Linked DNA regions of Homo sapiens: region 2 is linked to region 1. Evidence: fine-mapped expression QTL. A gene starts in region 1. The other region holds a variant in brackets. All regions are shown on one strand. Distances are between the middles of the regions.

Region 1 (16,176 bases):
TGTAGCCAATGAGGTCAAGGGCCAGACACCCATTCTGCCATTCAACAAACCAACCAAATTCATTGAGCACTCACTATTTGCCAGGCACCATGCTTGATGCTAAGGATAGCACAGGTGTATTAGGGTTCTCTTAGAGGGACAGAACTAGTAGGATATATATAATCATATATATATATAAGTCATATATATATATAGGAGTTTATTAAGTATTAATTTACACGATCACAAGGTCCCACAACAGGCTGGCTGTCTGCAAGCTGAGGAGCATGGAGAGCCGGTCCAGGTTCCAAAACTGAAGAACTTTGGGAGAAAGATGTAGGCTGTGAAGTTAGGCCTGTCTCTTTCTTTCTTTCTTTCTTTCTTTTTTGAGACAGTCTCGCTCTTGTTGCCCAGGCTGGAGTGCAATGGCACGATCTCGGCTCACCGCCACCTCAGCCTTCCGGGTTCAAGCGATTCTTCTGCCTCATCCTCCCAAGTAGCTGGGATTACAGGCATGCACCACCACGCCTGGTTAATTTTGTATTTTTAGTAGAGACGGGATTTCTCCATGTTGGTCAGGCTGGTCTCGAACTCCCGATCTCAGGTGATCCGCCCGTCTCCGCCTCCCAAAGTGCTGGGATTACAGGCGTGAGCCACCGCGCCCGGCCACCTGTCTCTCTCTCTCTTAGTTTTCTGCCTGTTTTATGTTCCGTGGCAGCTGATTGGATTGTGCCCACCAGATTAAGGGTGGGTCTGCCTTCCCCGGCCACTGACTCAAATGTTAATCTCTTTTGGCAACACCCTCACAGACACACCCAGGATTAATACTTTATATCTTTCAATACAATCAAGTTGACACTCAGTATTAACCATCACAGCAGAGAACCAAATGGACTAAGTCCTTGTCCTCCTGAGCCTTAGACCGATATCTCCCTTGTGCCAGACTTAATCCCTGAGGGATTTGCATCAAATAAGACAGATGCGGTCATCCTGCCTCTCACGGTACTGTCATCTCCTCCACTTCCCAAACTTTGGCAAAGGCTGTGAGGAACAGTGGAGAAGGTAAAGAGCTCACTGCCCCTGTGCCACCACCGAGAGTGTGAAACCTGCCCAGCACTGAGTGGCATGTGCTATAAAGTATAAAATACATGCCGGACTTGAAGACTTCATGTGACCACAAAGAATGTCAGTGATCTCATTTATAATTTTAAAATATTAATTACCTGTTGCAACAGTAATATTTTTGATATAGTAGGCTAAATAAAATTCATTATTAGGCCAGGTGCAGTGGCCCATGCCTGTAATCCCAGCACTTTGGGAGGCCCAGGTGGGTGGATCACTTGAGGCCAGGAGTTCAAGACCAGCTTGGCCAACATGGCAAAACCCCATCTCTACCTAAAATACAAAAAGTTAGCTGGGTGCGATGGCACACGCTATGTAGGAGGCTGAGGCATGAGAATCATTTGAACGCATTGTGGGCGGGGGGCCGAGGTTGCAGTGAGCCGAGATTGCTCCACTGCACTCCAGCCTGGGCAACAGAGCGAGACGCTGTCTAAAAAAAAAAAAAAATCATTATTAAAATTAATTTCATCAACTTTTACTTTTACTTTTTTTTTTTTTTTTTTTAGATGGAGATTCCCTCTTGTTGCCCAGGCTGGAGTGCAGTGGTGCAATCTTGGCTTACTGCTACCTCCACCTCCCAGGTTCAAGCAATTCTCCTGCCTCAGCCTCCCGAGTAGCTGGGATTACAGGCATACACCACCACACCCATCTAATTTTTTGTATTTCGTAGAGATGGGGTTTCACCATGTTGGTCAGGCTGGTCTTGAACTCCCAACCTCAGGTGATCCGCGCACCTCGGACTCCCAAAGTGCTGGGATTACAGACGTGTGCCACCACGCCCAGCACTTTTTTTCTTTTCTTTTCTTTTGAGACAGAGTCTTGCTCTGTCACCAGGCTGGAGTGCAGTGGCGCGATCTTGGCTCACTGCAACCTCCGCCTCCTGGGTTCAAGTGATTCACCTGCCTCATCCTCCTGAATAGCTAGGACTACAGGCACACGCCACTATGCTCAGCTAATTTTTGTATTTTTAATAGAGACAGGGTTTCACCATGTTGGCCAGGATGGTCTCGATCTCTTGACCTCGTGATCCGCCCTCCTTGGACTTCCAAAGTGCTGGGATTACCGCACCTGGCCCCTCCTTTTACCTTTTTTTTTTTTTTTTTTGAGACGGAGTCTCGCTCCGTTGCCCAGGCTGGAGTGCAGTGGCATGATCTTGGCTCACTGCAACCTCCCCCTCCCGGATTCAACCAATTCTCCTGCCTCGTCCTTCCAAGTAGCTGGGACTACAAGTGCATGCCGCCACTCCTGGCAAATTTTTTGTATTTTAGTAGAGATGGGGGTTTCACCATGTTGCCCAGGCTGGTCTCGAACTCCTGAGCTCAGGCAATCCACCCACCTTGGCCTCCCAAAGTGCTGGGATTACAGGTGTGAGCCACTGCGCCTGGCTCCTTTCAATTTTTTTTTTTTTTTTTTTTGAGACAGAGTTTCGCTCTTGTTGCCCAAGCGGGAATGCAGTGCTGGGATCACGGCTTACCACAACCTCCGCTTCCCTGGTGAATCAAGCGATTCTCCTGCCTCAGCCTCCCAAGTAACTGGGATTACAGGCATGCGCCACCATGCCTGGCTCAGTTTTTGTATTTTTAGTAGAGATGGGGTTTCTCCATGTTGGTCAGGCTGGTCTCACACTCCCAACCTCAGGCAATCCGCCCACCTTGGCCTCCCAAAGTGCTAGGATCACATGCATGAGCCACTGTGCCTGGCTGGGCAAGTCACTGAACTTTCTGATGCTCTATTTTCTCGACTGTTAAGTGCAGGTATTCAAAACACCAGGTATGTTTTCTTCCTCTGACACCTTGCTGGATGCTTTGTCCCCATAGTGGTGACAGTAGGGGAAGGGAGGCTGGGCACCCACCTCCAGGCTTGCTGAGGTTTGGAGGCTTTAGTGCATGTGCTTATTTGGCTGGTTTTGTGAGCCGTGTGTTTTGTGTGGTTGGTCAGGAGCCATGATTTTGGCCTCAGTTGTCCAGGCATCCACTTTTCAACCACCATGGAGATTGAGTGCTTACTTTGTGCCAAGCTCTCTTCTCTGCTTGGGGATCCCAGCTGGAGAGACACCACAGTGCTCCCCACCCAATTTTCGCAGGTAGAAACTCTTAGGCACCAAAAGGCTAGCTCTGCTGGTTGGAGACAGAACCAGAACTAAAACCTCGGAACATGGTTGTTTTTTTTTTTGTTTTTTTTTTTTTTGAGATGGAGTCCTGTTTTGTCGCCAAGCTGGAGTGCAGTGGCGATCTTGGCTCACTGCAACCTCCAACTCTTGGGTTCAAGCGATTCTCCTGCCTCAGCCTCCCGAGCGATTACAGGTGCCCGCCACCACGCCTGGCTAGTTTTTGTATTTTTGGTAGAGACAGGGTTTCACCGTGTTGGCCAGGATGGTCTTGATCTCCTGACCTCGTGGTCCTCCCGCCTTGGCTTCCCAAAGTGCTGGGATTACAGGCGTGAGCCACTGCGTCTGGCCTGTGTTTGTTTTATTGACTGTAGTGGCCCTTCTCTGCCCAGTTCAACAGCATGGCCCCAGAGCCTGGCACAGTGAGCACCAGAGTGCAGGTGCCCAGTGAATGAACGGACGAACTTTGATTCCCAGGGCTCTCCTCTGGGCTAAGCACTTTGCAGGGATGGATGACTGCATGCCATTCTCTCCATGAGGATGGTCAGGGAGGTAGGAGATGGCTGAGCTGGATTTGAAGCCAGGTCTCTTCTCTCCCAAGACTCCTAGCTTGCCTTTTTTTTTTTTTTTTTTTTTTTTGAGACAGAGTCTTGCTCTGTCGCCCAGGCTGGAGTGCAGTGGTGTGATCTCAGCTCAGTGCAAGCTCTGCCTCCCAGGTTCATGCCATTGTCCTGCCTCAGCCTCCCGAGTAGCTGGGACTATAGGCGCCCGCCACCACGCCTGGCTAATTTTTTGTATTTTTAGTAGAGATGGGGTTTCACCATGTTAGCCAGGATGGTCTCGATCTCTTGACCTCGTGACCCACCTGCCTCGGCCTCCCAAAGTGCTGGGATTACAGGCGTGAGCCACTGTGCCCTAGCTTTTTTTTTTTTTTTTTTTTTTTGATACAGAGTCTCGCTCTGTCGCCCAGGCTATAGTGCAATGGTGCAATCTCGGCTCACTGCAACCTCCACCTCCCAGGTTCAAGCAGTTCTCCTGCCTCAGCTTCTTGAGTAGCTGGGATTACAGGCACATACCACCAGGCCTGGCTAATTTTTGTATTTTTAGTAGAGACAGGGTTTCACCATGTTGGTCAGGCTGGTCTCGAACGCCTGACCAAGTGATCTGCCCACCTCAGCCTCCCAAAGTCCTGGGATTACAGGCTTGAGCCACTGTGTCTGGCCCTAGCTTGCCTTTTAACCCTTCCCTCGCTGTGTTGCCTTCAGCAAGTCTCCAAGGTTGTACTAGTTTTCTATTGCTACATTACCACACATTTAGTGGCTTATGTAACTTTGTTATCTTAAAGTTCTGGAGGTCACGGTGGTTGGCAGGGCTCATTTTCTTCTGGAGGCTTTAGGGGAGAATCCATTCCTTGTCCTTTGTAGCTTCTAGAGGCAGCCTGCATTTCTGGGCGTGAGGTCCTGCGTCATTCCTTTGTCAGTCAATATGATGAACTCCGCTTCATCAACCACATCTTCTCCGACTCCGACCCTCCTTCCTTCCTCTTGTGAGGACCCTTGTGATTCCACCTGCCCAACCAAATAATCCAGGATTCATCTCTGCATCTCAAGATCCTTAACTTCATCCCATCTACAGAATCCCTTTTGCCAGAGAAGGTACCATTTTCACAGATTTCAGGGATCAGGACTTGGACATCTTTGGTGGGGGGCATTGTATTGCCTCCACAAAGTCTACTTTTCTTCTCTGTTGGATGGGCACACTAGTGTCTGTTTTATGGGTATGTCGTGAGGATTACCTGAGTGACTCTATAGGGAGTGTTTAGCACAGTGGCTGTCACATAGTAAGTGCTCAGTAAACCACCCTGTTACTGTTCAGCCTCCTCCTATCATTTTGTTTTGAGACAGAGTCTCTCTCTGTTGCCCAGGCTGGAGTGAAGTGGCGTGCTCTTGGCTCACTGCAACCTCCACCTCCTGGGTTCAAGTGATTCTTGTGCCTCAGCCTCCCGAGTAGCTGGGATTACAGGACCCCACCACCATGCCCGGCTAATTTTTGTATTTTTAGTAGAGACGGGGTTTCACCATGTTGGCCAGACTGGTCTCAAACTCCTGACCTCAGGTGATCTGCCTGCCTCGGCCTCCCAAAGTGGTGGGATTACAGGGGTGAGCCACCACGCTTGGCCTTACAAATAAAGAATCTGAGGCTTCAGATAGTTTATTTCTTTTTTGCTTGTTTATTTTCTTTCTTTTTTTTTTTTTGAGATGGAGTCTCACTCTGTCACCCAGGCTGGAGTGCAGTGGCATGATCTCGGCTCAGTGCAACCTCCGCCACCCGGGTTTGAGCAATTCTTCTGCCTCAGCCTCCCAAGTAGCTGGGATTACAGGCGACTGCCACCATGCCTGGCTAATTTTTGTATTTTTAGTAGAGATGGGGTTTCACCATATTGGTCAGGCTGGTCTTGAACTCCTGACCGCATGATCCACCTGCCTCGACCTACCAAAGTGGTGGGATTACAGGTGTTAGCCACTGCGCCAGCCTTACAGATGAAGAACCTGAGGCTCAGTTTATTTATTTAATTTATTTTTTATTTGTTTATTTGCCTTCTATCATTTTTATTAGTTGCTGGGTTTTGAGCACTGGGCCAATTCTATGGCCTTCCTGAAGATGGTCAAGGAACAAAATCGAAAACAAAAATTAGGGTTACATCCTCCCTGTTTTGTAGAGATAGCGAAATATTGAAGACATTGGCAGGGGAATAATGCAGATTTGATGATGTAAAACAGAGTGGCCGGCACTGTAATCCCAACACTTTGGGAGGCCAAGGTAGGTGGATCACTTTAGCGCAGGAGTTCCAGACCAACTTGGCCAACATGGTGAAATCCCATCTCTACCAAAAATACAAAAATTAGCTGGGCATGGTGGCAGATGTCTGTAATCCCAGCTACTCAGGAGGCTGGGGCAGGAGAATCGCTTGAATCTAGGAGTTGGAGGTTGCAGTGAGCAGAGATTGCGGATTGTGCCACTGCACTCCAGCCTGGGGGACAGAGCGAGACTGTCTCAAAAAAAAAAAAAAAGAAAAAAGAAAAAAAGGATAACACTGAAAATGACCATGGATAAAATGTAGGAAAATTCAGAGAATTATAAATAAGGCTATAAAAGTATCCAGAATTCTACTCCCCAAAAACTAAGCTTTGTTCACCAGCCTCAGTTCTGGAGTTAGGCTGAAGTGGGTTAATTTTCCTTCTGGGTCCAGCAGTGTGGCCTGGGGCACATTCTCTCAAAGCCTCCTTTGTCTCACCTGTGAATTAGAACAATAATATCTGCCCCTGGGTTAGGATTAAGTGAGACAAACCACGTGCTTTAGCATAGGGCATGGCCCGCAGCTGGTGCTTAGAGCAACCGTGACTGGAAGAGGGTGGGATGATTTGGGTGCCAGGCCCTAACATTTTTTTTTTGTATTTGCTTTTTGAAATTGCTTTTATAGTTGGTTAGGTGTCTAAAAAAGTAAGAACCCTCCTCCGCTCTCCCAACCTCAAACCACGGAGGTAACCAAGACAGGAGTGCAGTCTCCCGGACCTTTTGTTTTGCAATCACACAAACACACAACACTCAAGAGGAGGGGCTTATTAGTTTTCATTTTGTAAAAATGGGACAAAGTACCCATATTGTGCAACAACCTTGCTTTTGAAATGAAAAAAGTATTATTTCTGCTTCCTTTCCGTTCATATACCGTATACATATTTTAACAAAATCCGGGCTTAGTCTGTTCTGAGGCGCTGCAGTTTTGAAGGGGGAGGGGGCGGAGATCCGGGCTCGCTCCCCCGTCACTGCCCCCTCCATCCCTTCCCCCTCTTTCCGGGCGCCCTTCCCCCGGGCCCAGGCCGGGCCCATGCCCTTCCCAGGCCCCTTCTCTTGGCTCCTGGCCCCTCCTCCGGGTCTCCTCCCCGATCCCCGCTCTGCCCCGTTCTCTCCCGCCTCTCCCGCCGTCCCCGGGCCCCTCCCCACTCCCAGCCCCCTCCCAGCCCCCTCCCGCCGCTCCCCGCCCCTCCCCCCTGGCCCCAGCCCTCGCCCGGCCCCCGGGCCGATCCCAAGGCCGCCGCTCCCGGGAGGCGCGGCAGGGGGCGCTGCGCGGGCCCAGGTTGCGGGCGGCGGCGGGAGGAGGAGGACGAGGAGGCGGGGGCGGCGGCAGGCGGGGGGCGGGGAGCCGAGCGCGAGGGAGCGAGCGGCGAGACAGGCGCCGAGGCTCCACCGCGCAGCGACGAGCGAGCCCGGGAGGAGGGAGGGAGCGAGCGAGCGAGCAGCCCGCGCCGCCGCCTCGCAATCCGCCGCCATCCCGCCGCCCCCGTGCCCGACCGCCGCCCGACTGCCATCGCCCGGCCCGGCCGCGCCCGCGGAACCAGACCAGGTGGGTCGGGGCCGGGGCCGGGGCCGGGGCGTGGGGGCGGCGGCGCTAAGATGGAGGCGGCGCGGCCCGGCCGGGCTTTGTCTCCCGCGGCCGCCGCCGGGGGCCCGGGGGCCCTGCGGCCCTGCCCGACCTTTGTCCGCGAGCGCGGCCGCCGCCGCCTCCTTCCCGCCGGGCGCGGGGCTGCGGGGCTGGGAGGCCGCGGGGCCTGGGGGCGGCGGGCCCGGGCGCGCTCGCCATTGTTGTGGCGGCGCCGCGCGGCCTCAGGCTCGGGCGGGGTCCAGGGGCCGCGCGACTCCCTCAGGGCTCGCCCGCCACCCCCGTACCCCCGAGGCCGGGCCGGGCTGCAGAGGCCGGAGGGGCGGGGGTCCCGGGCCCGCAGCCGGGTCTCGGGGTTCTGGGGCCGGCGTCTTTGCTCCCCGCCCCGCCCAATTGACGGAGCAGCGCGCCCGAGGCGGGATCCTGCGGGGTCGGGCCTTGGGTCCGGGGCGCTGAGCGGCGTTCGCGGGGCCGTTCCTGGCGCGGGGTGGGCCGGGCCCCGGCGGCGCTAAAGTTGGCGGCTGGGGGAGGGAGGCGAGCGGCCGCCCAGTCTCGGTGTGAGTGCGGGAACCAGAGGGTTATTTTCGAAATGCTGAATGCTCCATGCTAAAAATGTTTAATAATAAACAGGATGTCGCCACTCGGGGCCTGCCAGATGGGGTTTTTTTTTTTTTCCTCCTCTTTTGCCTCCCCTCAACCCCCAGGAGAGAAATTCAGCCCTGTTGAAACTGTGGGCCTCTGAAGAGTGGATTTGCCTTAAGAGGTGGATTTTTTTCCTTTTTCTTTTTTCCTCCTTCTAAATATCGTGGGAGGTCGGAGCCCACCTTTAGGCAAGAATTGGAGGTGTTTTCAGTGGTGAGCTTGAAGGAAGTGGGAGAAGGGGGGCTGGGGAGTGTCTTTTGCTAAATGGCTTCCTGGGAGAAATCTTTAAATGCCTTTGGTTTACAGGACTGTTAAACTTTCCCTAAGATTTTTTTTTTCTTTAAGGTTTAGTGTGCATTTGATGTGGCTTTGTACAGTGTCATCCAGTTTGGTTTTTGTAACCAATTGTGTGCGGTCTTAGCATGGTTTTTCCGAATCTCGCTGCAGCCATTTAGTCATGTCTATGCACAGCGCTGTGGTGTAAGGTGGGACTGGGGAGGCCCAGGCATTGGGGTGCAGATCCTGCTTCTTTCTTCCGTAAACCTAGTGACTCTGGGGCTGTCTGAGGCTTCATCTGCATAAATCGGGGCGTGCACCCTCCACCTGGCAGGTTTGGGCAGCGGTGAAGGGCCTAGCAGAGGGCCTGGCACAGTTAGTGGTTCCTCCTACGGTTGTTGGTATAACTGCTGTCAAGTCCTAGGACAGACGTGAGCCCCTTGTGGTGCCACCCATAGAGCCAAACTGTGCCCATGGATGCCACAGGTGCTGGCCTAAGGCATGGACAATACAGAAGGAATTCAAGGCCCAAACATTAGTGGGCGCTTATACAGTGCTGAGCCTCTCGGGAGGCAGGGATGGGAAAAAGTAGCATTTGGAGGTCTCTAGAACTTAGTAGACCCGGAGTGTGTGGCAGTTGGTCAGTTTAAGGCAGGGTTAGAACAGTACGAGATGCTCAGGACAAACAGACGCCCAAGGAGTCCTGCCTTCTGAGGATAACTGCTTTCCTTGGGGATTGGCAGATAATCATCTGAGAGTGAGTTTCTACTTGTTTGGGCAAGTGTGTCTCTTGGAGCCTGCGCAGCTGGATTCTGGTCCTCATCGGGTTACCTTTACAAAGCAAGTCTCTGAGGCTCAGATCTTGCATCTGTAAAATGGGAATAATTATGCCTGCCTTGGGTATCTATTAGGGCTCTTGGGAGCCTCACTTAAGATTCACAGTGAATTGTTTTCTCTCCATAGGAAGGTGATGAAATGTATGTGTTTGTTGATTATCTGTTTTTCTGGTTCCTTTCTCCTTCCTTCCTCCCTTGCCCTCTTCCTCTCTCCCTCCCTCCCTTTCCCTTCCTTTTCCTTCCTTCCCTTCCTTCTTTTTTCTTTTCTTTTCTTTTTTTTTTTTTTTTTTTTGAGACAGTCTCACTCTGTCGCCCAGGCTGGAGTGCAGTGATGTGATCTCAGCTCACTGCAACCTCCGCCTCCTGGGTTCAAGCGATTCTCGTGCCTCAGCCTCTGGAGTAGCTGGGATTACAGGCATGTGCCACCACACCTGGCCAATTTTTGTGTTTTTAGTAGAGACAGGGTTTCACCATGTTGGCCAGGCTAGTCTCAGACATCCGACTTCAGGTGATTTGCCTGCCTTGGCCTCCCAAAGTGCTGGGATTACAGGCCTGAGCTACCGCGCCCGGTCTTCTTTCTCTTAATGCTTATTTTTTCCTCTTCTCTTGGTTGATGGAACTGTGACTTCCCCACCCCAAATTCTATGGCCGGCTAATGTTTTGCTATGGTGACTATCACCCATCTACCTGGAAGCACCAGAATGGCTTAGTACAGCTAGGGAGCTCAGCCAGATCTCGGTGTCTGCTGTTTGAGATTGTGTGGAAGGACTATTGCTAAGAAGCAGGAGACAGACTGAACCCAGTGTTGGCCACAAGTGAGGACTGAGACCCAGGTCACCTCTTGGCTGAACATGTTAGCTTGTTGGTAAATGGCTCTGCAGTGGTTCTGCATTTTATTGGGGAATTTGTTTTGGTTCATTTTGGCATTCCCGCAACCATCTTGTTGGTTTTTTGGTAAAATGTGGCACCCCCTCCAGACCTCCTAGCTGTGGAACTGAGATATTTTAGCAGGGTCCTGTCATCCTTTGATTTTTCCTCGCTTCCTGCCTCTTGGCCCTTCCTTTTTGTCTGACTTCACTCGGGCCCAGTCTGGCTCTATACTGTTAACTGGTTAGTTAGGCCAGGAGATAGTCGCTGCCTCTCCCATGAGCTTCTGCATACCTGTGAATTTTGGTTATCTGTGGCCCCCTAATGCTGATTGCATGCCCTTGCCTTAGGCCCTAAGCCCACTGTGTGGGCGTCCCATCTCGTACAGTGGCCGTCTCCAGCCTCCACTGGGCCCAAATAGGTAAAAAGAAAGCCTGGGGAAGGAAGAGCCAGGAAACCTCGGGAGAGTGGAATTTCAGGAATGGCAGGTCAGAACTGGTTCCAGCATGGGTCCCTTTGCCTTGTGCTTAGCTGAGGGATTTTTGTTATTAATTTTTTTTTTCCTGTTCAACACTCCTAACCTCTTTTGAATTTCAGTTCTCTTTTTTTATCCTGAAGGATTATTTTATTGTACTTTTGAGGGTTTTTTTTTTTTTTTTTTTTTGCCTTGCACAAAGTACTGACTCATGTTGCTAATGGCTGTGGCTGTATGCTAGTTATATGTCTCATTATCCTACCCCTTAAGATTGATCATTTCTGTGTTGGTTTCTATTTCAAACCAGAATAGGCCAGGTGGGTCAATTCATGTATTTCTGAATTCAATAATGAGGCTTCCCTACCGTGAAATGTACATATCTTGTCATGGGCGGACAGGTACTAAATAGAGCCTATCTATACTAGATTTTAAAACAATGGATTTCTCCCCAAAAAACAACATTTCCAGCAGACAATGGGCTTTGTGCTCCAAATCTTGTAATTTTGGTTTTAAATAAATTTCATGTAAGGAGGCAGGGCTAACTAGACTGTCTTCTTTTCAGATCATAACTTGATCTCTTTTTAAGATTATTTCTGGGACTTGTACAGCCTCAGGAAACTTGGGTCTGTCATTGGGACAAAGAAATACAGGCACTGGCTGTGGTGTTGGAGATGGGAGCGACATGGGATATGGTGAGCTTTGTTTCTGGTGAAATAGAATTGTTTGTCATTAGCTTTAGGTTTAAAAGGTGCCATTCAGACTGGACCTCCTCACCTGGGAGCTGGCAGACCTGGGCCTTGCCATTGGCGATATTACTGTTTATACCTCTGGGTGGCACGTGGGAAATCTCTTTTGTGCTGGGAGGTAGGTTTGTCTTAGTGTCTTGAGCCAGAAGTTGTGGTTGAGCTTTGTTCTCAGCTGTACTTGTTGGTTTTCTGTGTGACCTGAGAAGCATCCTTCGTCCGAGCTGAAGTGCACCTCCGAGGTGCTGGCAGCAGCACTGATTTGTGAAGCATTGCGTGCAGCAGGAGTAGCTGGCAGAACAAAGCCTATCTCAAGTTGCTGGCGGTCTTTCACATCTTGTACAGGACTTCCTTCCGTTCTTACCTCTGCAGCCAGTTGTGTGGCTTCCGTCTGGACCGTCTTCCTCCTTTCCAAGATAACCATCAGTCTTTTTCTCTGTGGGGCTGCAGCAGCAGTATTTATTGCATTTTTAATTGACTTGTCAGGCAATAGATACTCCTTGAGCACCTATCATTTGCCAGGCATTGTACAAGGCCCTTTAAATACATTTTTCTTGTGGTAGGGCAAGGTGGCTCATGCCTGTAATCCCAGTACTTGGGGAGGCCAAGGCAGGTGGATTGCTTGAGGCCAGGTTAAGACCAGCCTGGGCAATGTGATGAAAATAAAAAAATGCCTCTTAAAAGAAAAAATTAGTAGGGTATAGTGGCGCATGCCTGTAGTTCTAACTACTTGGGAGGCTGAAGCAGGAGGATCACTTGAGCTTGGGAGGTTGAGGTTGCAGTGAGCCGTGATCATGCCACTGCACTCTAGCCTGGGCGACAGAGTGAGACCCTGTCTCAAAAGAATAAAAAGTAGGTCGGGCACGGTGGCTCACGCCTGTAATCCAAGCACTTTGGCAGGCCGAGGTGGGCGGATCACCTGAGGTCAGGAATTCAAGACCAGCCTGGCCAACATGGTGAAACCCCGTCTCTGCTAAAAATACAAAAATTAGCTGGATGCCGTGGCGAGTGCCTGTAGTCCCAGCTACTCAGGAGGGGTGAGGCTGGAGAATCACTTAAACCTGGGAGGTGGAGGTTGCAGTGAGCCGAGATTGTGCCACTGCATTCCAGCCTGGGAGACAGAGTGAAATTCTGTCTCAAAAAAAAAAAAAAAAAAAAAGTCTGGGCACGGTGGCTCACACCTATAATCCCAGCATTTTGGGAGGCTGAGGTGGGCGGATCACGAGGTCAGGAGATCGAGACCATCCTGGCTAACACGATGAAACCCCGTGTCTACTAAAAATACAAAAAATTAGCCGGGCGTGGTGGCGGGCGCCTGTAGTCCCAGATACTCAGGAGGCTGAGGCAGGAGAATGGCATGAACCCGGGAGGCGGAGTTTGCAGTGAGCCGAGATCACGACACTGCACTCTAGCCTGGGCCACAGAGCGAGACTCCATCTGAAAAAAAAGGAAAATACTGAAAAGAATAAATGCCAAAATAAATATATAAATCACTTGTGACCTCACCATCCAGAGCTAACTGCAGTAAAGTTGCTGGTGTGTTTCTTTCCTCTGATAATGTCTGTGTTTTCTAAATTAGAGCAATAGTATATATACATTGAATACACAGTTGATAGCTTGCTTTTCCCCTTTTAATGTTATAGTGTATTCCTCTACGTTATTTTTATAATTATATAATTGCTATTATACGGATATGCCATAATTTATTGACTCCTGTATTCGTAGACATTTAGATTATTGTTGCCCTCTTTTCCCTCCTATAAGAGAAACTGTAGGGAGCATCTCGGCATGTTAAGTCTTGGTCCACGTGGCTGATTATCTCCCATAAGTGGAATTTCTGGGGTCAGAGGATTGCAGGTTTGTTCTTCTCTTCTGGACAGGATCGGTTGTCTCCTTCAGTCTTTGTCACCTCCCTCTCCAGCCTTGAGCCCAAGGCAGTCTCTTTCTTAGTTTTTTCTTTTTTGAGGCAGGGTCTCACTTTGTCGCCCAGTCTGGAGTGCAGTGATGTGATCTCAGCTCACCGTAACCTCTGCATCCTGGGCTCAAATGATCCTTCTGCCTTAGCCTCCCAAGTAGCTGGGATCCTATAGGCATGCGCCACCATGCCTGACTAAGTTTTGTATTTTTTTGTGGAGACGGGGTTTCGCCATTTTGCCCAGGCTGTTTGTTTTTCTTTTCTTTTCTTTCTTTTTTTTTTTGAGATGGCATCTTGTTCTGTTGCGCAGGCTGGAGTGCAGCCGTGCGATCTTGGCTCACTGCAACCTCCACTTCCTGGGTTCAAGCAATTCTCGTGCCTCAGCCTTCGAGTAGCTGGGATTACAGGCGTGCACCACCACACCTGGCTACTTTTTGTATTTTTAGTAGAGACGGGGTTTTGCCATGTTGGCCAGGCTGGTCTCGAAATCCTGACCTCAGGTGATCCACCTGCCTTGGCCTCCCAAAGTGCTGGGATGACAGGTGTGAGCCACCGTGCCTGGACACCCAGGCTGTTTCAGACTCCTGGACTCAAGTGATCCCTCCGCCTCCGCCTATCAAAGTGCTGGGATTACAGGCATGAGCCACGGCACCCAGCAAGGCAGCCTCTTTCATGAGCCACTAGGTTCTGGGGGGTCTCAGTCCTGGTTAAGCCCTTTGATGAGTGGGGCTTGAGGTCTTACTCCATTTACTGGTTTGAACCTGGAGAAGCCTTTTGTCTTAAACAGTTTTTGTTTCTAGGGACATGGATGCCCCATTGACTCCTGGGGAGATCCTGGTCTGGTGGGGAGGAGGCCCTGGAGAGCCCCCCACCTAACTTTGGCCTCATCCTCTTGTGGTTTCTTTCTTTCTTTTTTTTTTTTTTTGAGACGGAGTTTTGCTCTTGTTGCCTAGGCTGGAGAGCAATGGCGCGATCTTGGCTCACTGCAACCTCTACCTCTCGGGTTCAAGCGATTCTCCTGCCTCAGCCTCCTGTGATTTCTTCGGAGCCCCCTACAGTTTCTCTTTATAGCAGTTTTCACAACTTGTAAATAGGTGTTTTTTTCTTTATTTGAATTTTAAAAATTGTGGTGAAGTATACATAACATAAAATTTACCATTTTTAAGTGTACAGTTGAGTGGCGTGAAGCACTTTCACAGTGTTGTGCAACCATCACCACCATCCATCTCCAGAACGTTCTCATCTTCCCAAACTGAAACTCTGTTCCCATTAGATGCCAACTCCCCTCCCCCATCCAGTGGCGGCGGCCACCATTCTTACCATTCTTTCTCCTTTTTTTTTTTTTTTTGAGATAGGGTCTCACTGTCGCCCAGGCTGGAGTGCAGTGGCACGATCTTGGCTCACTGCAACCTCAGCCTCTTGTGTAGCTGGGATTACAGGCACACGCCACCACACCCAGCTAATTTTTGTATTTTTTTGTAGAGACGGGGTTTCACCATGTTGGCTAGTCTGGTGTCGAACTCCTGGCCTTAAGTGGTTTGCTTACCTCAGCCTCCCAAAGTGCTGGGATTACCGGCATGAGCCACCGTGCCTGGCCTAGTTTTTGTATATTTTATTTTATTTTATTGAGACAGAGTTTTGATGTTGCCCAGGCTGGAGTGCAATGGCGCGATCTCGGCTCACTGCAGCCTCTGCTTCCTGGGTTTAAGAGATTCTCCTGCCTCAGCCTCCCGAGTAGCTGGGATTACAAGCGCCTGCCACCATGCCCAGCTAATTTTTGTATTTTTAGTGGAGACGGGGTTTCACCATGTTGGCCAGGCTGGTCTCGAACCCCTGACTTCAGGTGATCTGCCCACCTCGACTTCCCAAAGTGCTGGGATTACAGGCGTGAGCCACTGTGCTTGGTCTAATTTTTGTATTATTGTTATTATTTTTGAGACAGAGTCTCGTTATGTCTCCCAGGCTGGAGTGCAATGGCACGATCTCGGCTCACTGCACCTCTACCTCCCGGGTTCAAGCGATTCTCCTGCCTCAGCCTCCTGAATAGCTGGGATTACAGGTCTGGCTAATTTTTGTATTTTTAGGAGAAACGGAGTTTCGCCATGTTGGCCAGGCTGGTCTCGAACTCCTGAGCTCAAGCGATTTGCCTGCCTCGGCTTCCCAGAGTGCTGGAATTACAGCCATGTGTAATCCCATGGTGGCAATGTTGAGCCACCTTGCCCTGCCAACCATTTTACTTTCTTTCTGTGAAACCGAATACTCTTAAGTACCTCATGTAAGTGAGATCATCCAGTATTTGTCATTTTGTGTCTGGCTTATTTTTAGCATAGTATTTCCAAGGTTCATCCATGTTGCAGCATGTGTCAGAACTAACTTCATTCTTAAGGCAGAATAATATTCTCTTATTTGCATGTATCTACCACATTTTATTTATTCATTCAGCGACGGGCAGCAGCCTGTAGATAGTTTTGTTTTCATGTATTGAATGGTCCTTTCCCCCAGTGGAGTGAGTAAATGCATCCGGAAGCAGAATTCTGTTGTTTCCCATTCATCACTGTGTGCCAGGTGTCTGAGAAGGGGGTCTTATAGGAGCCCACGCAGAAACCAAGCTCACCTCAGTCTGGGTGTGGGGCAGTCAGGGAAGGCATTCTGGAAAATGTAGCTGACTCGAAATAAGCACCTATTGAAAATAGTGTGCTGAGCCCTGGAACATTAAAAATGTGTTCCTATGTGGAAATCAGAAATGTATGGGTCCCAGAAGAGAACTTGTGGGTCA
Region 2 (10,362 bases), 95 kb after region 1:
GGCCATCGGTCTCTCCCCAATGTCCTTCCCCACCGCCGACCTTACTCTGAAGGTAACACCAGCCCTGAGCTGGGTGAGGGCCCACCCAGTACCTTAGCTTACAAAGAGGCAGAAGGGAGGAGTCCCCGAACCCCTAAAGCTTAGATTGGCTCTGTCCACTGCCAGCGTGATAGTAATTTTCATCCCTCCCCCTCCCCTTGCTTCTGAAGATGGAGTCTGCGCGCAAGGCTTGGGAAAACTCCCCCAGTTTGCCGGAGCAGAGCTCTCCAGGCGGCGCTGGCTCAGGCATCCAGCCTCCATCCTCTGTGGGTGCCTCCAGCGGGGTCAACTACAGCTCCTTCGGTGGAGTGTCCATGCCACCCATGCCTGTGGCCTCTGTAGCACCTTCTGCTTCTATGCCAGGTATCTCATCCCCTGAGCAAGGCCTTGGGGTCCTTCTCCATTTATTATCAAGAAAAACGGATTAACAGCCCCGAATGTCACCTCCTGGCCTTGTCTTAAGTAGCATGTAGAAGTAGCAACTTGTTTTTAGGCCCAGTGGTCGTAGCTCCCATGTGCTGCAGGTAATGTGCACGTCCTGCTTCCCCACGCTGGGAAACAGAACTGGGGGATAACAGCGAGGCACTCCTGCCTACTGGTGACAGGAGCGAGCAAAGGCTTGACTTTGAGTCAGACCTGGGTCATGTGCTGGAGCCGTGTCGCCTCGGCTGGTGAGCAGCTCTTGCCGAGCCACAGTGTCCTCTCCTCTCTTACATGAAACTCCGTGGGGTGGCCACACCCGTGAGGCCAGGTCTTACCTGGAAAGGGCTTTGTATCAACAGAGCCCTCAGTCACTGGCAGCTACTTTTGTCCTGATTGCTGCCATCCTTATCGTGTGCCAGTGTCCCCAAGGGGAAGCGTGGGGGTTTTGAGGGCCCAGCTGCCAGTCTCAGTGATGTAATTCCAATAGATCCTTCTGACCCTCCACTGTGGACTCAATAGCAGGGAGATGAAGAGGACAGTGACTGAGAGACCAAGGCAGCCCTGGTTAAAGTAGAATGCCCCTTCGAGTGTCTGGGGTAGTTGGTGAGTGGGAGGTGGGAAGGGTAGGCCAGAGCCCACCTGCCTCCTCCCTCCTCCTAGGTCTGACGCTGCACCCTCCCTACGTTCCCTGAGGTGCGTGCCAGGCGTGTTGTGAGCAGGCGTGTGCTTCCGGCACACAGGGAACCTAGCAGCCTCTGTACACACGCCCTCGTCCCCACTGAGTCCCCTGGGTAGAGCAGACCTGTAGACTGTTTCCCTCAGGGACATTGAGAAGTAGTGAGGCTTGATCCTCTTCTACGTCCCTTTTGCCGCTCTGTTTCCAGGCAGCCACCTCCCGCCCCTGTACCTGGATGGCCATGTGTTTGCAAGTCAGCCCCGGCTGGTTCCTCAAACGATACCTCAGCAGCAGAGTTACCAACAGGTGACAGCAGCTAGCCAGGTGGCCTGGCTGGGGGTGGTGGGGAGGAGCCAGTGCAGGGCGGAATTGGCTTGCTCATCTATTTCTCATTGTCTGTCTGGTTTTCCATCCCCCTCACATGTGGTGACCAGCACCTGGCCCGCCACGGCAGCCAGGAGGCATTTGTTAAGCGAATAATCGAGACAGGGAAGAGGAGTGGAGTTGGCTGCTCCAGACTCTGCTTAGTTTTCCTTTCTCAAAGTTCTCCCTCCTGTGTCCTAGCCGGGGAATTAGCTAAAATGGAATTTTCTTTGGTGATCAGGTATCCTTCTGATGAAGAGAAGAAAGGCCTAAACTCCCAGGCATGGATGCATTAGAAAGAGGTAGTCTTAGAAATGAGCAGGCGTTGGTTATTTATGCAGGACTGGCATACTTTCTGTGCTGCCAAGGGGTGATTTTTGGAAGTCTCCCCTCTAATGCTGGTGCTGGGCCTTTGGGATGGTCTAGCCGCCCCTCAGACCCATGTGCCTCCACAGCCACGACAGTGGACTTCCAGGCAGAATCTGCTCCAAGTGCAGGCTTGCTGATGGAGGATGTGGCCTCTGCTGACCTCTTTTTAAAAACATGTTCTTAACTGCTGTATTGTTTGGTTACCAAGATTTTGGTTCTTGCATAACTGGGTCAGACTGCATGTATCTTTCTTTTTGTGCATTGTTAAATTCAGCGTTATGTTTTTGGAACTCACCTCTGTTGACGTATGTGCTAGGATCCATTTTTGTTGCTGTGTAGAATTCCAGGGTAGGGATATGCTGTGGTTTGGGGTTGCTACCAGTTTTTCATTATAGGCTTTATCCCAATAGCAAGGGAAGCCCAGGAATGACATGCTGGCATTTGAATTTTGGGCAGTGTTCCAGCAGCCATGTGGAGAGGGGCAGGGGAGGTGGGAGGGGAAGAACCACCTGGATGGGCCTTGCGGTTACCTCCCCGACCCCGTTTTCCCGTTCACAGGCCGCCGCTGCCCAGCAGATCCCGATCTCCCTTCACACATCTCTGCAGGCACAAGCTCAGCTTGGACTGAGGGGTGGGCTTCCTGTGTCCCAGTCCCAGGAGATCTTCAGCTCCTTGCAGCCCTTCAGGTGAGCTCATGTACCAGCTTGCGGAGCTGGCAGCTCACAGCCAGGGCCTTGGCCCTGTGTGCAGCCTTCGTCCTGCAGCTGTTTGGTGCTTGTCTGCTTTGGGGCCAGTGGGGCGGGGAGGGGTGGGAGTTTGCTCTGAATCACTCTTCAGTCCGTTGTTAACTGTGCTCTAGGAGAGGCCTGGGGCGAGCTGATATGTGGTGGGCCGTGTTTTGCTTTTCCATGTCATCTTGCCTCCTTTCCTTGCTCCTTCCTCCTCCTCTCCCCTTGACTCCCTGTCTCCTCCCCACCGCGGGCTTCTCCGTCAGTGTGGCTGCCAGTCATTGTGGCTGATGTCCTGTGCCTCGTACAGCCTGGATGTCTTCACTTGTTTAATCCAGCAGCATCAGCGCCATCTAGGAGCTTGTTCTCAGGCCCCATCCTGGACCCTCTGAGTCGCGCTCTGGGGGTGGGGCCGGGGATCTGTGGTTTAGCAAGCTCTCCGGGGATCTCTGAAGGGTGGGACCAGATCCGCAGCTGGACTCATCCACCTGATCCCGACCATCTGTCTGGCTTTTGCAGATCTCAGGTGTACATGCACCCCAGCCTGTCACCGCCCAGCACCATGATCCTCTCTGGGGGCACAGCCTTGAAGCCTCCATACTCGGCGTTCCCAGGCATGCAGCCCTTGGAGATGGTGAAGCCGCAGTCTGGCTCACCCTACCAGCCCATGAGCGGGAACCAAGCCCTGGTCTACGAGGGCCAGCTCAGCCAGGCTGCTGGCCTGGGTGCCTCCCAGATGTTGGACTCCCAGCTCCCACAGGTCAGGAATTCAGTCACTCTACCCAAAGCCCTAGGCTTCTTTCCTTCACGACCTTGCCTTTTCTTTTCACCCGCCTCTCAGTGTGTGCTGGCCTATCGTGCTGTTGGTTGGTAGCCACCGTGCCCATTCCTCAGCGTGCAGGAAATCAGCCTCTTCTGAGTAGCCCCATCACCTTTTTTTTTTTTTGGACAGAGTCTCGCTCTGTTGCCTAGGCTGGAGTGCAGTGGCATGATCTCGGCTCACTACAACCTCTGTCTCCCACATTCAGGCGATGCTCCTGCCTCAGCCTCCTGAGTAGCTGGGACTACAAGTGTGTGCCACTGTGCCTGGCTAATTTTTGTATTAGTAGAGATGGGGTTTCACCATGTTGGCCAGGCTGGTCTCGAACCCCTGACCTCAAAGTGATCTGCCCGCCTTGGCCTCCCAAAGGGCTGGGATGACAGGCGTGAGCCACCACCCCTGGCCCCTCATCCATCTCTTTATTCTTGAGACCTGGCTGTCCCCTAAGCACTGCCTGCTCCTGCAGCCCCCAGACGGGGGCTCCTTCCTTTCTCCCTGCCCTTGTGCAGTAGGGTGTGGAATGGGTTAAGAGTCCTCTTTGTGTAGTTGTTGATGCTTCTAGACTCCTCTTCTTCCTTCCTCCCTGAAACGCCAGCTTTGAAGCCCACACCATAGACTGTGCCTGACAAGCCCTTCACTCTGCTATGGTGCCATCACCACATCCAGTGTCTGCTGAGAAATCTTCCTCTCCGTCAACCTGTGGGCAGTATTTGGCACCTTTGAAGGTCACCCTCCTTGTCTGGTCTGGCTTGCAGTCTGTCTCCACTCTCCTGTTCCAGTTCCTAGTGGTTTTGATGTCTGCAGAGATGACCCCGGGTCTCTGTGCCATGGACCCTGTCCATGCAGTTTGTGCCCTCCTCGCCACTGGTGCCCTTGTTCACATGGGCCCCTGCTCTGTGCACTCCTGTCTAGGCTTGGCTGCTCCCAGTAGCTGTGGCTCTCGCATAATCTCAACTCTCAGTGTCCCTCTCAGTTGTCACCTCTGGCTTTTTCAATTCACTCCCTCTAGTGACCCAACTCCAAAATTCTTTTTTTTTTTTTTTTTTGAGATGGAGTTTCGCTCTGTTGCCCAGGCTGGAGTGCAGTGGCGCAATCTCGGCTCACTGCAACCTCTCTGTCTCCTGGGTTCAAGCAATTATCGTGCCTCAGCCTCCCGAGTAGCTGGGATTACAGGCGCCCACCACCCACCGGCTAATTTTTGTATTTTTAGTAGAGATGGGGGTTTCACCATGTCAGGCTGATCTCGAACTGCTGACCTCAGTGAGCCACCCACCTTGGCCTCCCAAAGTGCTGGGATTACAGGTGTTAGCCACCACACCCAGTCTCTGCCACCCATGTTTTTGTCATCCTCCCCCTTGGCCTGGCTTCTTCCTCCCCATCAGCAGATCTGCCGAGCCACATGGCCTTTGCATTTCATCCAAGCTGTGGCTCCCAGTCAACCCCCACCCTCCTAGCAGCTTTTCAGACTTGCATCTTGCCCCTCGCTGCCTCCCACCCATGACCTCCCTTTCTGTGTCACCCAGGAAACAGGAGCAGTGACAGTCTCCAAGCCCCTGTGGCCACATCCCTGCCTAGGTGCTGCCTGTGCCCCTGGGGGGCCCTGCCCCAGCACATCTCCCTCTCTTTCATGCATCAGATATCCCTTCCCGTCAGTACACAGACGAGCTGCAGTGCTGACCCCGTAATCCCGCCCCCCACACCCCTCGAACCACTTTCTTCACCCAGTTTCCAGGCCGTCGCTCCTGGCTTTCCTGCTGCCTCAGGCCTCCTCCTCAGTCTCCTTTGCTGTCCCCTCTCCTTCCCAGTCTGTAATGGTCAGCATGCCCGTGGGCCCTGCTTTGGGTGTGTTTCAAGAGTCATGGCTCTAAATTCCTTCATCTTCTCCTCACTCCCAAATGGACATCTTTAGCTCAGATCTGTCCCTGGAATTGAATCTCAAATCCAATGGACTTTCCAGCATGTCTGCTATGGTGTCTTATGGCATCTCAAGACTCATCATATTCAAAACTCGATTTTCCTCCCGGTCCTTCTGCTTGTCCAGTCCACATCCTCCTTGGCTCCCTGCTCCCCCTCACCTCACCCCCTTACCCTTCAGCAGGCCTGTCAGCTCTGGCTTTAAAAGGATTCAGAATCCAGCTGTGTCTCATCCCCTCCACACCCCTGCATGCTGTCCAGCTCCTGTAGGGACTCCTACCTGGCCTCCCTGCAAGTCAGATCATACCCCAAGTCAGCACTCTATAAATGGCAGCATCTTCCCATCATTTTCATCCTGCACCATTTTGGTGCTCCAAGGAGGAGCATGGTGTTTTGCGGCTCTGGCCACCACAAGTCTCAGTGATGTAATTCCAATAGATCCTTCTGACCCTCCACTGTGGACTCAATAGCAGGGAGATGAAGAGGACAGTGACTGAGAGACCAAAAGTGGCCCAGCCCCCCTACCCCATCCTGTTCCCCTGTCCTTACAGTCTCTGGGCCCACATCCCCACCTCGCATATCTTGTTCTAGTTAGTTAGGCCCTGCAGCTACCCTGTTCTCCTGTCAGCATGCTTCAAAGGACCCCCACAG[T/C]CTGGAATCCAGCCCAGTCTTGTTTTTACCACCACTTGATGCAAAACAGTAAGAGTCTTGAACGTGTGTGCTGTACAAAGGAATGCAGAGATATACGTCCGATGCAGCTTTCATCTTTTGGGACTTGGCTTCGCCATTACTTCTGACTTTCCTCACTCGTCCTCTCCTTGCCCACCCCGCCCCGTGTGCACCCATAAATCTGGTGTGCACCCACAGATCCTATGCCGCTCTGCATCCCGAGTGTCCTGCAGCTGTGTCCAGTGTGTGACACACTATCCTGGCAGTGTGCAGGCCCATGTTGGACAGGGCCCTGCCGCTTCCTTGGCACCTTGTATGCTTTCAGTAAGCACTTGCTGGACAAAGGCAGAAAGGGCTGAAGATAGACGCAGCCCTTAGCAGAGATGTGGATGAGACACACTTAACGCTGTTAGTTCCCATGCCTGCAGCCAGCTTAGTCTTGCCCGTTTTCTCACCACCTACTCTATTCCAGCAAGAAGACGTGCCTCTGCCATCGAAGGTGTGAAATCCTGGGCGATCTCTCCTGTGCTGCAGTAGAAATTAGAGCATGTCCTGCTTTATGCAGGCTTTGCTTTAGTTCTTCTGAAGTGTATGAATCTGAAGTGCATGTGCGGTCGCTCTTTGGTGCGTTTGGGGTTTCTCCATAGCATCATTCCCCCTCCTGACTGTCATTGTCGCCCAGCAGCTGACCATGCCACTGCCTCGGTACGGCTCCGGGCAGCAGCCACTGATCCTGCCCCAGTCTATTCAGCTGCCACCTGGGCAGAGCCTCTCCGTTGGGGCCCCCCGAAGGATTCCTCCGCCCGGGTCCCAGCCGCCAGTCCTGAACACCAGCAGAGAGGTAAGGGGACCCCATCTGCCTCTGACCCTAGGGAGGGGGCCTTGTGTCACCAACTTTTTCTAGCAAGCTAAGTACCCCTGTGTGGTAGAAAGAGCCAGTGGCGTGGGACTGCCAGGGCAGAAAGGAAGGTGACCATGTGTGGGGCCATCACAGAGGCAGGTCCTGGGGACTCTGAACATGTCGAGGGCTGAGGGCCAGGAATCAGCATTCCTCCCCAGCTCCCCAGGAGGCCCTGCTATGGACGGCCATGTTTCATTGGCTCTCCCACTTCACTTTAAAAAGAACAAAATATTGTGATGGTTCTTGCTTCTAAGAAGAAGCCCTCTTGAGTCTGGCTTAGAGGGAAAGGGCTTGCAGATTTCTCTAGAACAGGGGTCCCCAGTCCCCGGGCTGCAGAGCTGTACTGGTCTGTGGGAAAATTGTCTTCCATGAAACTGGGCCCTGGTGCCAAAAACCACTGCTCTATAAGATGCCTCCCTGGGAATTCCCATGGCCCTCACCACCTCTGCCCTGGGTTGTTCAGTAAGTGTGTGGTCCAGCTGTCTCCAGGGCCTCAAATGACAGCTTGTTCCTGCTTGGTCTCTCTAGCCCTCTCAGATGGAGATGAAAGGCTTCCACTTTGCCGACAGTAAACAGAATGTCCCTTCAGGAGGCCCCGTGCCATCGCCACAGACCTACAGGTAAAGCCACTCCCTGGGGACTGCGTGCTGTGTAGCTGAGCAGTTGCCAGAGCTGCGGCCCAGTGACTCAGAAGAATCTGGGCCCAGGGAGAGCCGCCAGAGACCTGGTCCCTCTATGGGCCATGTGTCACTGTGGTGTTTCAGCACTGGGATGCACTTGTGTTCCAGTTAAATTTGGGGGAGTGAGGAGTCAGGAGAGTGGTTTTGGTTTTAATCATTATAATAAGATGCTCTGGATTGGGGAGCTTTCTGGAAAGGTAGGAAAAGGAACGGCTGACATTTAGTAGGCATCAGGACTGACGTGACTTCCCATTAGATCCTAAAAACAGGACCCACTGGCCACAGGGCTGCATCCTGGCAAGGGGAGGAGCGTGGCCTTTCCCAGCGTCTCTTTCCTCAGACTTGCCCTATGACCCCTGCCAGGGGACTTTTTATTGCTGGGCTTATGGGGCCATTCCTTCCATGCTACAAACCAGCACCCTCTTTTTGCTTCCTTTGTGTCTGTCTCCACCTCCAGCAACTGTCTCAGGTCCCCTTAGCTGGATACTCAGGTGGCTCTGTCGGATGTTGGCGAGAGCCTCTGGTCCACTGCCTTTTCTGCCCGTGCTGGTGTGTGAAGGCAGCACGCTCTGGCCCTGGGCTCCGAGGGCTTGTACAGTCCACCCTTGTTACATGTGGGAGATTCCTGAGACCCCTCTGTGTTTACAAATGAGTGAAACAGACCTGCCTGACCCATGGTGCCCTGTGAGGTTAACACCATCGCTGCAGACGCCATGAGGTATCCCCACGACTACACAGGTACTTGTGGGCCTGAGGAGCGCTCTGCAAGCCGGGCCCCCATGGTCTGCAAGTTGCTCCAGCTGCACCCCCTCTGCCTTGCTGCCCTCCCTCTGCCCCACCGCCCTTTGCCTGTCCTCCATCACAGCATTCCACTCTTGTACCTTCATTTCCAGAGAAAGGGGTTTTTGTAGATTTTCCTCCCATTCCATCTTTTCTGTTCTTATTTTCACTCTCCTGGCTTCATTTATTTCTGTTTTTAGTACGTTTCGTTTTCCTACCATGTCTGTCACATAGACCAAAACATCAGGACTGTGTGAAAAAGATAGCTGGACAGCACCGACCATGGAGCGGAACTGGAAGGAGGAAGGCGGCTGCAGGTCTCAGCAGACGCTGTCCCGCTGCTGCCACAGGCAGATTCCAGCAGCCTCTGGCTACAGAGCCTTCCTCAAAAAGCAAAACCCAGAGACAGAGCCTCACGGGACAAGAGTCGCCTGTGTCTATGTAGTTGTAGGAATGAATGGCAGCAGATTATTCTTTGGAGCATATTTAGAAAGTGGAAGCCTTAAACTAGTAGCTTTGTTTCTATGGTGTTTTAGGGGGGTTGGGGAAATTGCTATAATTGTATAAAGCAGTGTTTGCCAAAGTGTTCTGGAAATAGAGCTGCTGAGATGTGCGCTGCAAAAACAAGGGTTCCCTGGTCAGGTCCTTGGGGGAGTGCTGTCCCCAGGGTGGCCTGCTGGGGAGGGTACTCACCACACAGGCTGAGCGGGCCTAGGTTGAGAGTCCTGTTGAACTCTGCACACGGCACTTAGGCTTTTTGACCGCAGACTTTTTTTTTTTCCACGTAGCACCTAATTAACATCCCTGGGAACTAACTAGTGGTCAGTGGAACACATTTAGAAGCATGTTGTACATTTTGGTTCCCCCATCCCCTTTTCTGAAAAGTGAAGACTAGAACAATACTCGGCACAGTTCTGGCTCAGCGTCAGGCTTCTAGGCCTTTTGTCTGGGGCACTGCATCGTGTTGGTCCAGACCCTGAGACGGCCAGTGTCGCTTTCTGCACAGCAGGACAGCCATGCCCATCTGTACAGGGCCTCAGCCTCCCTCTCTTGCGGTGCGTCTCCTTGAGCTCTGTCCTGGAGGTGCCAGGGTGGTCAGTGACAGCCACCCCCTCACCCTTCTGCGTTCTGGGCTGTCTTAGGTCTGTGGTTGTTTTCCATCCAAGAGATCCACGGACCGTCCCGAGTGAGCGCCTCTGGCCGCAGGCCCTTCCTTCCTTGTGCCTCCTCCATGTGCTAGGCTTTGACTCCATTTCTGTGGTGACACGTTGTGTATTCTCAACCCCTGCCTTTGGTTTTTTCAGGCCTAGCTCTGCTAGCCCCAGTGGGAAGCCCTCTGGATCAGCAGTTAACATGGGCTCTGTGCAGGGACACTACGTGCAACAGGTAGAAGATGGCTTTCCAGACCCTTCAGCCCTGGACACTTAGGCCCGTCTCCAAGCGCCAAAAGAGAAGGGACTGTCCAACCTATCTGAGCGCCCCCTGTCTAAAGACAGCCATGCCCTAGCGGTTAGAGCACAGAACCGGGAGCTGGGCCGCCCGCGTCCCTCCTGGCGAAGGCATTTCTCCTCTTGACGGGCGTCTGGATCCTTCCTTGTCCTGCAGAGAAGGGAGGATGCTGATTCCTCTGAGGAGGTGGTGCTGGAAGGTGGACCAGCCCTGGCAGGTCGGGGCTGAGGCGCCCTGGGAGACTCGGTTAGGTTTGGGGGTCGGCTTTAGGAGCCGGGGTGCGCGCGCTGGTTCTAGTCAGTGGTGTGTCTCATCTTTGTCTTGGCTGGGTGGGAGCACAGGTGAAATTAAGTTTTCCCATTTTATAATGAAAAGGACATCGCAGTGTCTTTTCCTGCACGCACTATTCTCTTCTCTATTCTCTAAAACGTGCTGGGGCTCAGAGCTTAAGCCCCTCAGACGTGGGTTTTTAATCAGTCACTGTGCCTGGCTGGTAGAGATGGGAAGTGATTGCTCTCATTGGTTCCCCTAGGGGTCATGAAAGTTGTGTG

Which allele goes with the higher level. Alleles are on the strand shown, and positions count from the first base shown. SD is a standard deviation of normalised expression in the study named.
With allele C in place of T in region 2, the expression in skeletal muscle of the gene that starts at base 7,433 in region 1 is higher (moderate effect, 0.48 SD a copy in FUSION).

Evidence for each region.
Region 2: its variant is fine-mapped to the expression of PRRC2B in skeletal muscle (FUSION, PIP 0.95).

What each region holds. Positions count from the first base shown.
Region 1 is chr9:131,386,654-131,402,829 of GRCh38, forward strand. PRRC2B (proline rich coiled-coil 2B) reads left to right here and starts at 7,433. Exons shown (of 32, transcript NM_013318.4): 1 at 7,433-7,610. RefSeq lists enhancers at 6,657-6,806, 7,933-8,694, 9,457-10,218, 11,836-11,915, 14,614-15,605 and silencers at 7,277-7,466, 7,497-7,606, 7,837-8,126.
Region 2 is chr9:131,484,739-131,495,100 of GRCh38, forward strand. PRRC2B (proline rich coiled-coil 2B) reads left to right here. Exons shown (of 32, transcript NM_013318.4): 24 at 1-52; 25 at 210-402; 26 at 1,347-1,444; 27 at 2,429-2,556; 28 at 3,118-3,358; 29 at 6,687-6,842; 30 at 7,431-7,522; 31 at 9,667-9,748. It overlaps SNORD62B (small nucleolar RNA, C/D box 62B), which reads left to right and starts at 5,748; the gene lies at 5,748-5,833. It overlaps SNORD62A (small nucleolar RNA, C/D box 62A), which reads left to right and starts at 927; the gene lies at 927-1,012. RefSeq lists an enhancer at 4,459-4,959. The variant T/C (reference allele first, on the strand shown) is at 5,984.